Regions from separate parts of the Homo sapiens genome. Here all the other regions are linked to region 2. Evidence: fine-mapped expression QTL. A gene starts in region 2. Each other region holds a variant in brackets. All regions are shown on one strand. Distances are from middle to middle.

Evidence for each region. PIP is the estimated chance that this variant, and not a neighbour inherited with it, causes the effect. A credible set is the group of variants that fine-mapping cannot tell apart.
Region 1: its variant is the best candidate, but not a certain one, in a credible set for the expression of ST8SIA1 in blood mononuclear cells (TOPMed, PIP 0.61).
Region 3: its variant is the best candidate, but not a certain one, in a credible set for the expression of ST8SIA1 in sun-exposed skin (GTEx, PIP 0.60).

Annotation. Positions count from the first base shown.
Region 1 is chr12:22,249,032-22,253,276 of GRCh38, reverse strand. ST8SIA1 (ST8 alpha-N-acetyl-neuraminide alpha-2,8-sialyltransferase 1) reads left to right here. Exons shown (of 5, transcript NM_003034.4): 4 at 4,179-4,245. Among named protein-coding and RNA genes, the nearest start is that of ST8SIA1, 84 kb to the left of the region's middle. The variant G/A (reference allele first, on the strand shown) is at 1,577.
Region 2 is chr12:22,332,398-22,336,642 of GRCh38, reverse strand. ST8SIA1 (ST8 alpha-N-acetyl-neuraminide alpha-2,8-sialyltransferase 1) reads left to right here and starts at 1,936. Exons shown (of 5, transcript NM_003034.4): 1 at 1,936-2,646. The coding sequence starts at 2,411. LOC105369151 (a long non-coding RNA gene) reads left to right here and starts at 2,653. Exons shown (of 2, transcript XR_931426.3): 1 at 2,653-3,790.
Region 3 is chr12:22,574,587-22,578,831 of GRCh38, reverse strand. C2CD5-AS1 (C2CD5 antisense RNA 1) reads right to left here and starts at 555. Exons shown (of 3, transcript XR_001749044.2): 1 at 400-555. It also overlaps the pseudogene LRRC34P1. The variant T/C (reference allele first, on the strand shown) is at 1,871.

The DNA of each region.
Region 1 (4,245 bases), 83 kb after region 2:
TTAGGTGAGGCTGAAGAGCCAGCAAAGAACACAGCGAGATAGGAGACAAGTCCTTGCTGTTGTTGACTAGGTCTGTGACCTACAGTGCATTATTTTACCCTTGCTGGGGCCCAGCTTTCTAATTTGTAGGAGGAAGCGGGAGTAGGCAATTCCTCAGGCCCTTCCCATTGTGGCAACTCTTACTCTATCTATGACTGTATGAATACCGTATCATTGTAACACCGTTTATGTAGTTTAGTTTAAATTTTCAAATTGCTCTTGAGTATTATTAGTTTTTGTGCTCTTCCCAAAAATTATGTAAGGAAGAAGGAATACGTAGTATTCAACTCACAGATTCAAAGAAGTGATTTCAAGTGGCCTTGATACACGTAGAAATGTAAATACACTTCGTGCAGTACAATAAGTGTATTTTTGTATTCATGAGTGTGTATGTGTGTGTGTCATCCATTTGTGAAGATGGACGTTTACTAATGTGTAGAAGACTAGGCTTAGGCACCATAGAATGTTATCTATTGTTTCCAGTGGGCCATATTTATCACAAGTAAACAAGACTTTTTTAGCCTTATATGCAATCTGGTGTTGATATAGTCAAGTTCAGAATTAATGAACGCTTCTGATTAGAGTGCCTGGCACAGTATTAAGCATAATGTTTCTAAAATATGGGGAGATGAGGGTTGAAAGAACTCAAAGAAGGTAGCACCATAACTAGAACTATGTATGCGTATGCCTTTGATTTAATTTCAAGAATAGTTCTGTTTTATGACACATTTTAATGTTTAAAAGCCTTATGTATGTTTTAAATTATAGGAGTAATAAAAGTTGATAAATTATTTCAAAATTATTTGACCATTTGCAGATCTATTAATAAATCATTGCTTAATATGCATTTTGGGGCATGCTTAATGTATCGAGATATTATATATTCAAAATTAAACATTTAATGAATAAACGTAGATTAGAAAGCATGTCGTATGTCTGGTCCTAGACTGTAGGGTGTGTAATGGACAGATACAGTGAGAGAGAACATCCAAAAATAGCACTGCCTGTACACAGTGATATACCAGATTACAGTTCAAAGTGTCTTCTAGGACTAGGATATAATAATTTCATAATTTTCTTTGCTTAAATGTTTTCAAACACATCTTCTAGTGCTGAAAATCAATTTCCCATTTCTCAAAGTAAACATTTGCTCTGTAGCCAAAAGCAGTACTTTAAAAAATAATATCATTGAATTCAATTTATTGGGAAGATTTGCCAGACAAAAGTTAACAGGGATTGCATCCTCAAAAGGAACTGGTTGGCTTGGGGACATGAATGAGGGAACATAATTTTGGTGCCTTTTGAATTATGCTCAAATGTATGTTTTGCCTGCTCACATATACAAAAAAATTAAAGTAATTTCATGATTTTTCTGCTTTAAGATTTCTTTCTCTCAAGCCCATTTCCCACTTACTTCCACATCCCAATTCAAAGAATATTCACTTCTCATTAATTCTCTGATCAGATCTCTTTTAGGATCATGAGCACAGTTGCTAAGACACTTTAGTCATTAATATTTGTTAATTGTGCCAACAGC[G/A]ATAATGCAAACTTTGAAACATTTTACACCACAATTATGCCTTATTAAAACAATTTGACTGTATTAAATGTGCCTTTTGTGTACATCTTTGTAATTATCAATTTATGAGTTGAGGAACTAAAATTATTGGTGTGCTTTTCCTGAGAGAAGAGATACAGGAAAGTGTCACAGATATTTGCACTTAGAGAAAAAGTTTACCCAGAAGAACTTACACCAAAATGTATTGTCATTATTTTCTGGAAATACATCAAAATTCATATAAAATGTTATCTTCATGGTTTTAAGCATTCACCTCTGTTCTAGAAGATAATAAATACCTGCAAGTTTTTATTGGGCTATTACTCTGTGGCAGTAAATATGAAAAGACCCAGACACATGAGCCATGGAACACACAGGAAAACAAAGTATTTACTCATGAAAACCAGTTTGTTTAATAATGACAAAACATGTTGACAGTACTCTCCAGCAATACTCAGAATTTACAGTTTTAGCGTAACATAGCTGATTCTCACCTGCTTCCAAGGGCAATTAAGATCAAAGCTTCTTTAAGAGATAAGTATCCAAATTTTAGTCTGTGTTTTATCCTGGAAGTCATCTTCCTCTTTGCAAAGATCAATTAAATCACAAGACCACAATCAGTTACCACAGCCGGATGAGCCTGGCTGTTAATGCATAAACTCACTCCCTCATGAGAATCCTCAGGAAACCACATGGGATATGGGGCAACCACTTGACTGTGGATACTTCAAGAGTAGGTTCTCTGACTTGGGCTCCACCCCCAAGGCCCCCATAATGCCCACTGTGTTTGCTTTCAGTGGGCATTCAGCAAAAGCCACTGACTGGTTAACTGACCTGTTGGTAGCTACCAGAAAAACCAGTATCTTATCACCGAAGAGCAGATAAAAAGAAGATTCTAAATCAACTGAGACAAGTTTCTGCCTAGGATGCCTTGATGTGTTGATACTCACAGGGTAAATAAGAGACAAAATCAGAGAACTTGAGCTGATCAGCTGAGTGGGTGCCTGGATACTGAGGGTAATTTGTAGGGAAAATTTAGTAGTTGGGGAACTAGCAGAGACTGCAATATTTGTAAGATATCTTTACCTACAAGTAAATGATGCTTTGGTTTACTGAAGTAATAAAAAGTTACAGATGCCCTAATGTGGTAGGAATCAAGTTAGACATATGGTTGAAGAGGAGAAATGAGGACTCAGTAATAAAAGAAAGCATAATGGAAACTATAGGCGCATTTGGCATTTTCATAGATAATAAATACATATTTAATTATTTTTGTATGCTATTTCTGACCTGTGATATTTTTGAATATTTACTAAGTGTACACATCAAGGTTGGGGAATTTTTATATTACATACCTTTTTTAGTCCTTAACAACAATTCAAGAAAAGAGGAAAAATCATTATCCTCATTTTGTATAATGGAGAAACTGAAGTCAGGCAAATGAATTAACTTGCCTAATGTTCCACAGGCAGAAAGCCATGGGATTTGAATTCGCAGTGGTCATATTTCCCATTGTAAGCATTCATAAGACATGGTGGCCAAGGAGAGCAACTGGGGCAGGGTGGGGTTTTGGGAGTGGGAGTGGGGTGGCTGTTCCCATCACCAGGGAAACATCACCTGTACTCTTTCCTTTGGCTGAACTGGGATGGTGGATCACTGCATTTCTTTGGATGATGAGCCATTATACCTTCACCAGTAATCAGCCTACCCATTGGCCACACACACACAAGTCAGACATGCTGTGATTTAAGTGAATAGTACATGGCCCTGAATGCACTCTTATAATTTTGATTTTGGAAAAAGAAAAACACAAGAAAATATATTAATTCCTCCTTGTCTTTTGAGATTTATGGGTGTGCAGAGGTACTGTAGGTCCCATGTCCTCTAGTGTATCACACTGTCCTGAGCTTTAATTCAGGTCTAAGAATGTCTGTCCTACCCTCTCAAAAATATTTTGAATGGAATAAATACCTCCTAGTTACTGTCTCTTTCTTTTTGTAGATAATTTGCCCCTTTGGCTGACATTATCTTTCTTACTAAACAGGAGTAGTTTTTATGACAGCATTTGGAAGATGCTGATAGTTAATTATTCATCCAATGTCTATTAAAAGGGAGAGGTGGTAAAAAACAAAACAAAACAAAACAAAACAAAAAACAGTTACTGGCTGGGTGCAGTGGCTCACGCCTGTAATCCCAGTACTTTGGGAGGCCAAGGCGGGCAGATCACAAGGTCAGGAGATCGAGACCGTCCTGGATAACACGGTGAAACTCCGTCTCTACTAAAAATACAAAAAAAATTAGCCGGGTGTGGTGGCAGGTGCCTGTAGTCCCAGCTACTCGGGAGGCTGAGGCAGGAGAATGGCGTGAACCCGGCAGGTGGAGCTTGCAGTGAGCGGAGATCACACCACTGTACTCCAGCCTGGGCAACAGAGCGAGACTCCATCTCAAAAAAAAAAAAAAAACAAAAAACAAAACAGTTACTCGTGAATTCAGCTAGAATTAATAACATTTCTATTTGTATTATTCTAACTGATGATTTAAAACTATGCAAATTGTTCCAAAATGTTTGTTCTTGTTTCTCTAGATGCAATCTCCCTCCTTTGTCAAGTGAATACACTAAGGATGTTGGATCCAAAAGTCAGTTAGTGACA
Region 2 (4,245 bases):
TAATGTGAGAACGGACCAATGTAGTGTGACTTGGAAGGGTGAGAGCGATGACCTGATTAGATTTGGTGCTCATGTTAAGAAAAAGCAGGGAATAAGTTTGGATTGTTGGGTGGGCAGAAGCCCACCAAGGTAAGAGAATTCTTAGTTTGCAGAAGAAAGAAAAACAGCACATTGTGTCACACAGATCTTTTGATGTAAAGCATGACTTTAATGCATTCTTATGATATTATATAGGGAAACATTTACATAGCCCCTTCATAACTGTAATATGCCCTAGTTTTGTTTGTCAGTTTATTTCTTTGTTATTTACTCTACAAATAGTCCTTGAACTTGAGGAAGAAAAATGGGAATGGTTTGTGTTTTACTTAAATTATAAGATCAAAGATGGCAGATGATTTATCCAAAGCCCAGGCAAGTAGGAAAAGCTCCCCCTTCCCTTCCCCTTTTCCAGGATAGAAGAGAGTTGGCTGGTTACTTTGCAGGACTTAAGATGATCTTCATTTTAAAGAATCTGTATCAGCCTCCACTGTGGTAAGATGTGACTGGGATTTCAAGGTTTCCCCTGTCTCTACTGATTTACCTAAGTAGGACAGAGATTTCTGGGGCATGCCTGCCGGTGGAGGGCAGTAGGTCACTCAACTAAGAGCACAGTATTGTTGAGAAAATGACACTAAAGTGGTCATCTGGGATGCTACTTCGCTTTTGGTAAATAACTTTGCATCAACTTCTCAAGTTCCACCTCTCAGTGGAGACGGATGCTAGACAAAGGTACCAGACACCGCAGCCTGGTCGGCTGAACAAATGGAGTTATAGCCTTAGATTTTGTTTTCGTGATGACTAAGCTGACCAGGTTTCTTCTTTGTCCTTGCACACTTTATGCTTGACGAGATGCTTAAGCAAATAGAATAGGCGACCGCTAGGAGGTACCCGAGCTATGCGTCGGCCGCCGGGGCGAGCAGAAATGGCTAACAGCGACTCTCTCGGCTCGGTGGGTCAAGGCGGGTGGTGCTTTTCCAAGGTCGGGGTTGCGATAAGCTTATCGCTTATCACAAGCAAGAAGGGCAAGAAGGACGTCTAAGAACCAACGGTCCTTTAATCTAAAAGGCCGCGCGCCTCCAAGGCAATGTGACATCTTGAGGTCTAGTGTTTGGGCACCAGCTGCCTGCACATCTGGATGCAGCACTTCCTTTCAGGGAGGAGGCGAGGCGGAGGACCCCGGAGTGCACGCACCTCCTCGTGCGCGCGCTCGCTTGCGCCCGTGAACGTGTGTGTGTGTGTGTGTGTGTGTGTGTGTGTGTGTGTGTGTGCGGGCGCGCGCGCACACACACGGGCCGCGGCTCCGGGACCGGCTAATGGGGGTGGGGGCCCAGGAAGGAATAAATCTCCGCCAGCCTCCTCGCGCCTGGCTGCGGGTTAATATCCAACCAGCTAGAGAAAGACTAGGGTGACGGCAGCAGGGTGACAGCCTGGGCACACCGGCCGCTTGTCGAAGGATCAGGATATTAGCCAGTCTCCGCCACACTCAGGGACTGATATATTTCTATTGGCGGGGGGCTGTTGGTTTTTATTGTCTGCCGTTATCTCCAAAGAACAAGGGCACGAGTGAGGGGTGCGCGCTCTGGGCGAGTGTCGCGGCTCGGATCGGGTCGAAGGAGGCAATTTTGCGGGTGGGGGAGGGAGGGGGAGACCTTGATTTCCACCAATCCCCGGGCGTTTGTCTGCGAAGTCCGGGGCGCAGCGGAAGGCTGCGGCGCGCCGCTGAATTAACTGATGAGAGCGAGTTCTTTTCTTCTCCGGGAGGGGTGGGGAGCGAGGGTCCCGGCGGGCGAGGCGGAGGAGCCCGGGGCAGGATAGCGGTCCCGGGCCGCCGTGGAAATTTCCAAGGACTTGGTGCGGCGCAGAGAGCGCGTCTCGGGGCGGGGTGGGGGGGGGGGGGTTGCCTGGCGGCGCAGCAGCGCGGGAGGCGGCGAAGGGCGCAGGAGCATCGCTCGGAGGGGACAAGGGGACGCCACGGGCCACATGTTTAGGAGGGAGCCGAGCCTTCTCCCGGACCCTCGCCGAGGGCGACCGTGATGCTGCAGAACCGGCGGGAGCGACTCGCCGCCGCCGCTCTCTGCGCACTCGGAGACCCCAGCGCCCGCCTTCTGCAGGGGAAGCGACCATGGCCATAGATCGTGACTTCACCCCCAGCCACTTCCCCTAGAAAGAAATCCTTGGAAAAGTTGCATTTGAAAAAATCCTTGCGCTGACCTTTGGGGCCGACGGGGCCGAAGAAGCGTGCGTGCGTTTGCAAGTAAGAGAACCAAAGGTGTGTGTGCATGGGGGGCTGGCGGTGGGGGACCCTCCGCTGCCACTTCGCCTAGCTTTGTGCTGAGGCCCCGGCCCCCGCCCCTGGGACGCCGGGGCTGCGATGAGCCCCTGCGGGCGGGCCCGGCGACAAACGTCCAGAGGGGCCATGGCTGTACTGGCGTGGAAGTTCCCGCGGACCCGGCTGCCCATGGGAGCCAGTGCCCTCTGTGTCGTGGTCCTCTGTTGGCTCTACATCTTCCCCGTCTACCGGCTGCCCAACGAGAAAGAGATCGTGCAGGGGGTGCTGCAACAGGGCACGGCGTGGAGGAGGAACCAGACCGCGGCCAGAGCGTTCAGGTACTCCTGCCCTCGCGGCTCCTCCCCTCTAGCGTCCTTTCCTCCCCGAGTGCAGAGGACAGGGTCACCGGCGAGGACCGCCTTGCACCGTCTCGCAGAGGCATCCCTTTCATCCGCTCTTCCATGTCCTTTCCCTCCATTTGTGCCATTCCCAACCTGGAGACTTTAGTCAGGGTTCCTTCCCCACCCCTGATCCCCAGAGATGTGCAGACACCTGCTTTGCGCATGTAAAGACTCGACGCATTTCTTCCCAAAGCGGAGTTTTATTTAACAATTTACGGATAAACAAAACAGAGGGAAGGAGAACCCAGGATAACTTAGTCTCTTGCACTTAATAAGAATTTACCTCTTGGGCTCTGCAGACATTTGAAGCTGTAGGGAACAAGAAGCAGGTAAAAGGCATCTCCCCGAGGTGGAGTGCACAGTCGGTAACATAAGTCCCCAACGTCGGAGTGATGGGCAGTGGAAACATGGACGGATCCCGCAGCTTTGCGCAGTGTGCCCACAGCAAGTGCATAGTACTGACTGACGTCTACTAAGAGACGATACTGTGCAATTTTTGTGTTGAAATCTCGAACAGCTGTCTAGTATTATTATCTCATCTTGTTGACCACAAATTGATTCTTTAGAAGGATGAGTAACTTCCCCAAGGTCATTACTTTTGACCTGTGGGTGCTGGATTTTTCATCACTTAAAGCTCCAAAGCTCCCAGCTCTTTTTATTGGCTTAGGCTGTGGATGCCTCTGGAAGATGGGAGATGTACTTTAAGTAGGCACCTGAAGTCAGAAAACAAACAAAATGCCCAAGCCAGGTTGGAAATCAGAACTCTGAGGATCACTCAGAGGTTGTAGATCCGCTTCCTTTCTGGGAATTTTAGATTAAATGTCTAAAAATAAGTTACGGCAGCAGGGGTTGTGTAGTTAGATTGGAGGGAAGGCAGAGCTGCTTCCCCTTCCTCTCCACCTCCCCAGGCATGTTGAGGGAACACACGGGTGCTTCCACCACTGCGAGGTGCCCCTTTCACCTTTAGTCTCTGGGGCTGAAGATGCTGCTGTTGGCTTCTTCCTGTGATTGTAGTGGTCTGGGTGGTTGGAAATGATCTCCTCTGCTCTGTAGAGGATCTTTCTAATCAGTGCAAGGGCAGGTGAGTTCTAATGTAAACATTTTTCACTGCAGTTATTTACAAATATTCAGGAGCATCTATACATTTTTAAAAACTTTTTAAACATATGGTTTCCATCTCCTTCTCAGGCCTCCTCCTGGAAAGAGGATTAAAAAGATAACAGAGCCAATTTGTTTAGAGGAAGGCAACTGCATTCTCCTTGGAAGGGAGGACTTTCCTTCTCCCTTTTTAGAACTCTACCATCATTGAATTTAAAAATAACCTCACTCTTCCTAAAAGTATCTAAGGGTTAATTTTTTCTTTCCTTCACAGTATTGATTGTGGGACTCAAGAGCAGGCAAAAGGCATCACATCCAGCAATTATTTTCCCTAAAGACAGAAAGCACTTTCATTTCAAGTGATCTAAGGAAATGAGTTAAGAACTTCCCATTGGTTTGCAATGAAAGAGTCCATTTTTTTAATATAGGAGGAGGAAT
Region 3 (4,245 bases), 240 kb before region 2:
TTCTATATATATTCCATATATTTATATAACTTATATATTTTTATATATGGAATATAGATGTAAGCAGAATAAAAGGCAGAAATAGAACTATACACATACATGGCCAATTGATTTTCGACAAAGATACCAAGGTATTTCAATGTGAAAGGAATAATCTTTTTCAACAAATGATACTGGAAGAACTGGTTATTCAGAAGTTCTATAGTTTGGATATGGGTTGTTTGTCCCCAGCAAATCTCATGTTGAAATTTGATCCCCAAGGTTGGAGGTGGCCTAATGGGAAGTACTTGAGTCATGGGGCAGATCCCTCATGAATAGATTAGTGCTCTTCCTTGGGGGTAAGTGAGTTCTCACTCTATTAATTCCTAAGAAAGCTGGTTCTTAAAGAGAGCCTGGTACCTTATCCCTCTCTCTCTTTCCTCCTCTCTTTCTATGTGATCTCCGCAACACCAGCTCCCTTTCACCTTCCGCCATGAATGGAAGTAGCCTGAGGTCCACACCAGATGCAGATGTTGGTGCCATGTTTCTTGTACAGCCTGTAGAACCATAAGCAAAATAAACCTCTTTTCTTTATAAATTTCCCAGTCTCAGGTATTTCTTCACAGGAACACAAAACAGATTAAGACAAGAGGGAAAAAAAATGAAGCTTAATCCTTAATCTTCATTTCACAAAACTTAACTTGAAATGGGTCACAGAACTAAATGTAAATGTTAAAAGTTATAAAAATTTGTGACCTTGACATAGGTAAAGATTTCTTAGATAGAACATAAAAAGCATGTGCTATAAAAGAAATAAATGAATACATAGGACTTTATCAAAATGAGAACTCTTGCTCTGAAAAATACAACCATGAAAATGAAAGGTGAGTCACAGAGAAAATATTTGTCGTACATGTATATACTGATAAAGAGCTTATATACAAAACTCTTACAATTCACAAAGACAAAGAAACCAGTTCTTAAAACTGAGCAAAAAGCCAGGCATGGCAGCACATGCCTGTAGTCCCAGCTGCTCAGCAGGCTGAGGTTGGGGGATTGCTTAAGGCTAGGAGTCTGAGGCTGTAGTGCACTATCCTCACACCTGTGAATAACTACTGCACTCCAGCCTGGGCAATATAGTAAGACTCCAGCTTTAAGAAAAAAAAAAACCTGAGCAAAAGATCTGAAAGGACACTTTACAAAAGAAAATATATGAATAGCAAAAAAAGAAAACAAAAAAAGTCCATTATCTTAAGTCATCATGGAAATGCAAATTTAAATCACAATAAGATACCACTGCCCATCCATTAGAGTGGCTAATATTAAAAAGACTGATAACATCAAATGTTGGGGAGAACGTGAATCTACTAGGACTCATGGATTGCTGATGAGAATGCAAATGGTATGGGAATTTTGGAAAATAGTTTAACAATTTCTTATAAAGTTAAACATATAGTTCAACCCAGCAATTCCACTCCTAGGTTTATCCAAAGGAAATGGAAACACATATCCACGTAAGAATTTAAATCTGAGTATTTATAGCAACTTTATTTATAATAGCCCCAAACTGAATCCAACCCAAATGTCTATCAATAGGTGAATGGACAAACAAATTTGTTTCTTTTTATTAAGCAGTATGCCATTGTGTGGATGTAGCATATATATATATATATATATTTTTTTTTTTTTTCATTCACAAGCCAAAGAACATTTTGGTTATTTCCAATTTGGGCCTACTATAAATAAAGGTGCTATAAATATTCATGCAGAAATCTTTGTATGAATATAAGTTTTCATTTATTTTGGGTAATCACATAGGACTGGGATTGCTGGGTTAATGGTATATTTAGCTTTATAAGAAACTGCCAAACTGTTTTCCAAAATGGTTGTA[T/C]TATTTGGATCTCCATTAGCAATGTATGGGAGTTCTAGTTGCTCTGTATTTTAGCCAGCATTTTATATTTTCATTTTTTTGTTTTGTTTTTTTTAATTTTAGGTGTTGTTATGAACTCAATTGTGTCCTCCTCAAAATACATATGCTGAAATCTTAACCCTCAATGTGACTGTATTTAGAGATAGGGCCTTTCAGGAGGTAATTTAGGTTAAATGACATCACATGGGTGGGGCTGTAATCCAACAGAACTGGCATCTTTATAAGAGGAAGAAACACCAGGAATTCACGTGCACAGAGGAAAGGCCACGTGAGGCCACAGCAAGAAGGCACCACCTGTAAGCCAGGAAAAGAGGCCTCCCTAGAAACCAACATACTGGTTCTTAATTTTGGACTTCCAGCCTCCAGAAATGTGAGAAAATAAATTCCTGTTGCAGTCCATTCTGTGATATTCTGTTGTGATAGCCAAGCAGACTAGTACAGATTGTATAGTGTTATCTCACTGTGGTTTTCATTTGTACTTCTCTAGTGATTAATGATATTGAATATCTTTTCATGTGCTTATTTGCATCTTTAGCTCTTTTTATGAAGTATGTGTCTGCACAAAATTCATAACTCTGTGCACCAAAACCAATTCTAAGTACACTTTGCTCCACAGATTTCTTAATTCATTAGGATCATTGTCTTTACCATGATTCTGTGACTCACCAGCGTCTGTGTTTGGATGAATAATTTTTGCAAAAATTATGTTTCAGTGCTGAAAGCTTTCTTTTTCCCACAATGGACAGTTATACAAACTTTAATATAGTGATTACCTTTTATACATTTGATAAAAGTAACTTGTTTTAATTTATGAAAGAAAAATTTAATAAGCTATAAAAATCTCTGTGAAAGCAATAAGACAAATGTATAAAAATGATTTTATTTAGCTGAGTGTGGTGGCACGTGCCTGTAATCCCAGCTACTCAAGAGACCAAGGGAGGAGAATCGCTTGAACCCTGGAGGCAGAGGTTTCAGTGAGTCAAGATTGTGCCACTGTACTCCAGCCTGGGCAACAGAGCGAGACTCCATCTCAAAAAAAAAAAAATGATTTTATATCTTCTTTTTCCTAGGTGTTGACTTACTGGAACAGGAGCAAAATCTGCATTAGATGAGAGACTCTAAACTTCTCCATAAGTTGGAGTTCAATAATAATGTTTTTTAAGGTCATTGGAGACTTCTGTGAGCATCCATCCACCACAAATAACTCCACATCTGGGTTATCTGCTTTTGTTTATTTATTTATTTATTTGTGAGACAGAGTCTCACTCTGTCGCCCAGGTGGAGTATAGTGGTGTGATCTCAGCTCACTTCAACCTCCGCCTCCTGGGTTCAAGCAATTCTTGTGCCTCAGCCTCCCGAGTAGGTGGGACTACAGGTGTGTGCCACCATGACCAGCTAATTTTTGTATTTTCAGTAGAGACAGAGTTTCCCCATATTGGCCAGGCTGGTCTCGAACTCCTGGCCTCAAGTGATCTGCCTGTCTCGGCCTCCCAAAGTGCTGGGATTACAGGCATGAACCAGTTCACCTGGCCTATTGTCTGTTTTTAGATGGCCTATTTGAATTATGTCTGAACATGATACACCTGTAGCCTCATCAAATTTGTTTTTGTTTTGTTTTGTTTTTGAGACAGGGTCTCACGTTGCTCAGTCTGGAGTGCAGTGGCACCATCGCAGCTCACTTCCAGCCTTGACCTCCCTGGGCTCAGGTGATCCTACCACCTCAGCCACCCAAGTAGGACTACAGGCACACACTACCATGGCCAGCTAATTTTTGCAATCTTTTTGTAGAGATGGGGTCTTGCTATGTTGCCCAGGCTAAATTTGTTTCTCCAAATGTAGATATTAGAAAATGTGGGATTCGTTTTCATTGATTGTGAAAGTGCAAGTCCTTCTCTATGTTGTTGCTGACTACTGACAATGCTTTAAAATGCCCATTGTGTAAAGTAAGAATTTCTTGGAGATACTTAGCTCCTGCATTTTCTATTCTGTTAAAAGAAAAATCTACTGCTTCTAGGGTAATATTGCTTTTACATGAGCTAGATACATAATTCCATCCTGAGATATTTGATTGCAGCTGACATCAAGGTAGCATAGGCTACTGTTAAGATACATTGAATAACATATAATTGTTGTATACTACAGTTTTTTATATTATGCTTACACATGTGTAGTTGAACAAGGCAGTTATTTTCTTTCAACATATGGCCTACGTGGGCTGTGGACTCTTTCTGTTTGCCATACTGCATAGGTCAGTTTAGGTTTATTCCCTTAATTGCTTTGTTTTGAGTTAGTATCGTAGCAAATGCTATCACACTTTGCATTCCCAGATCACAGTA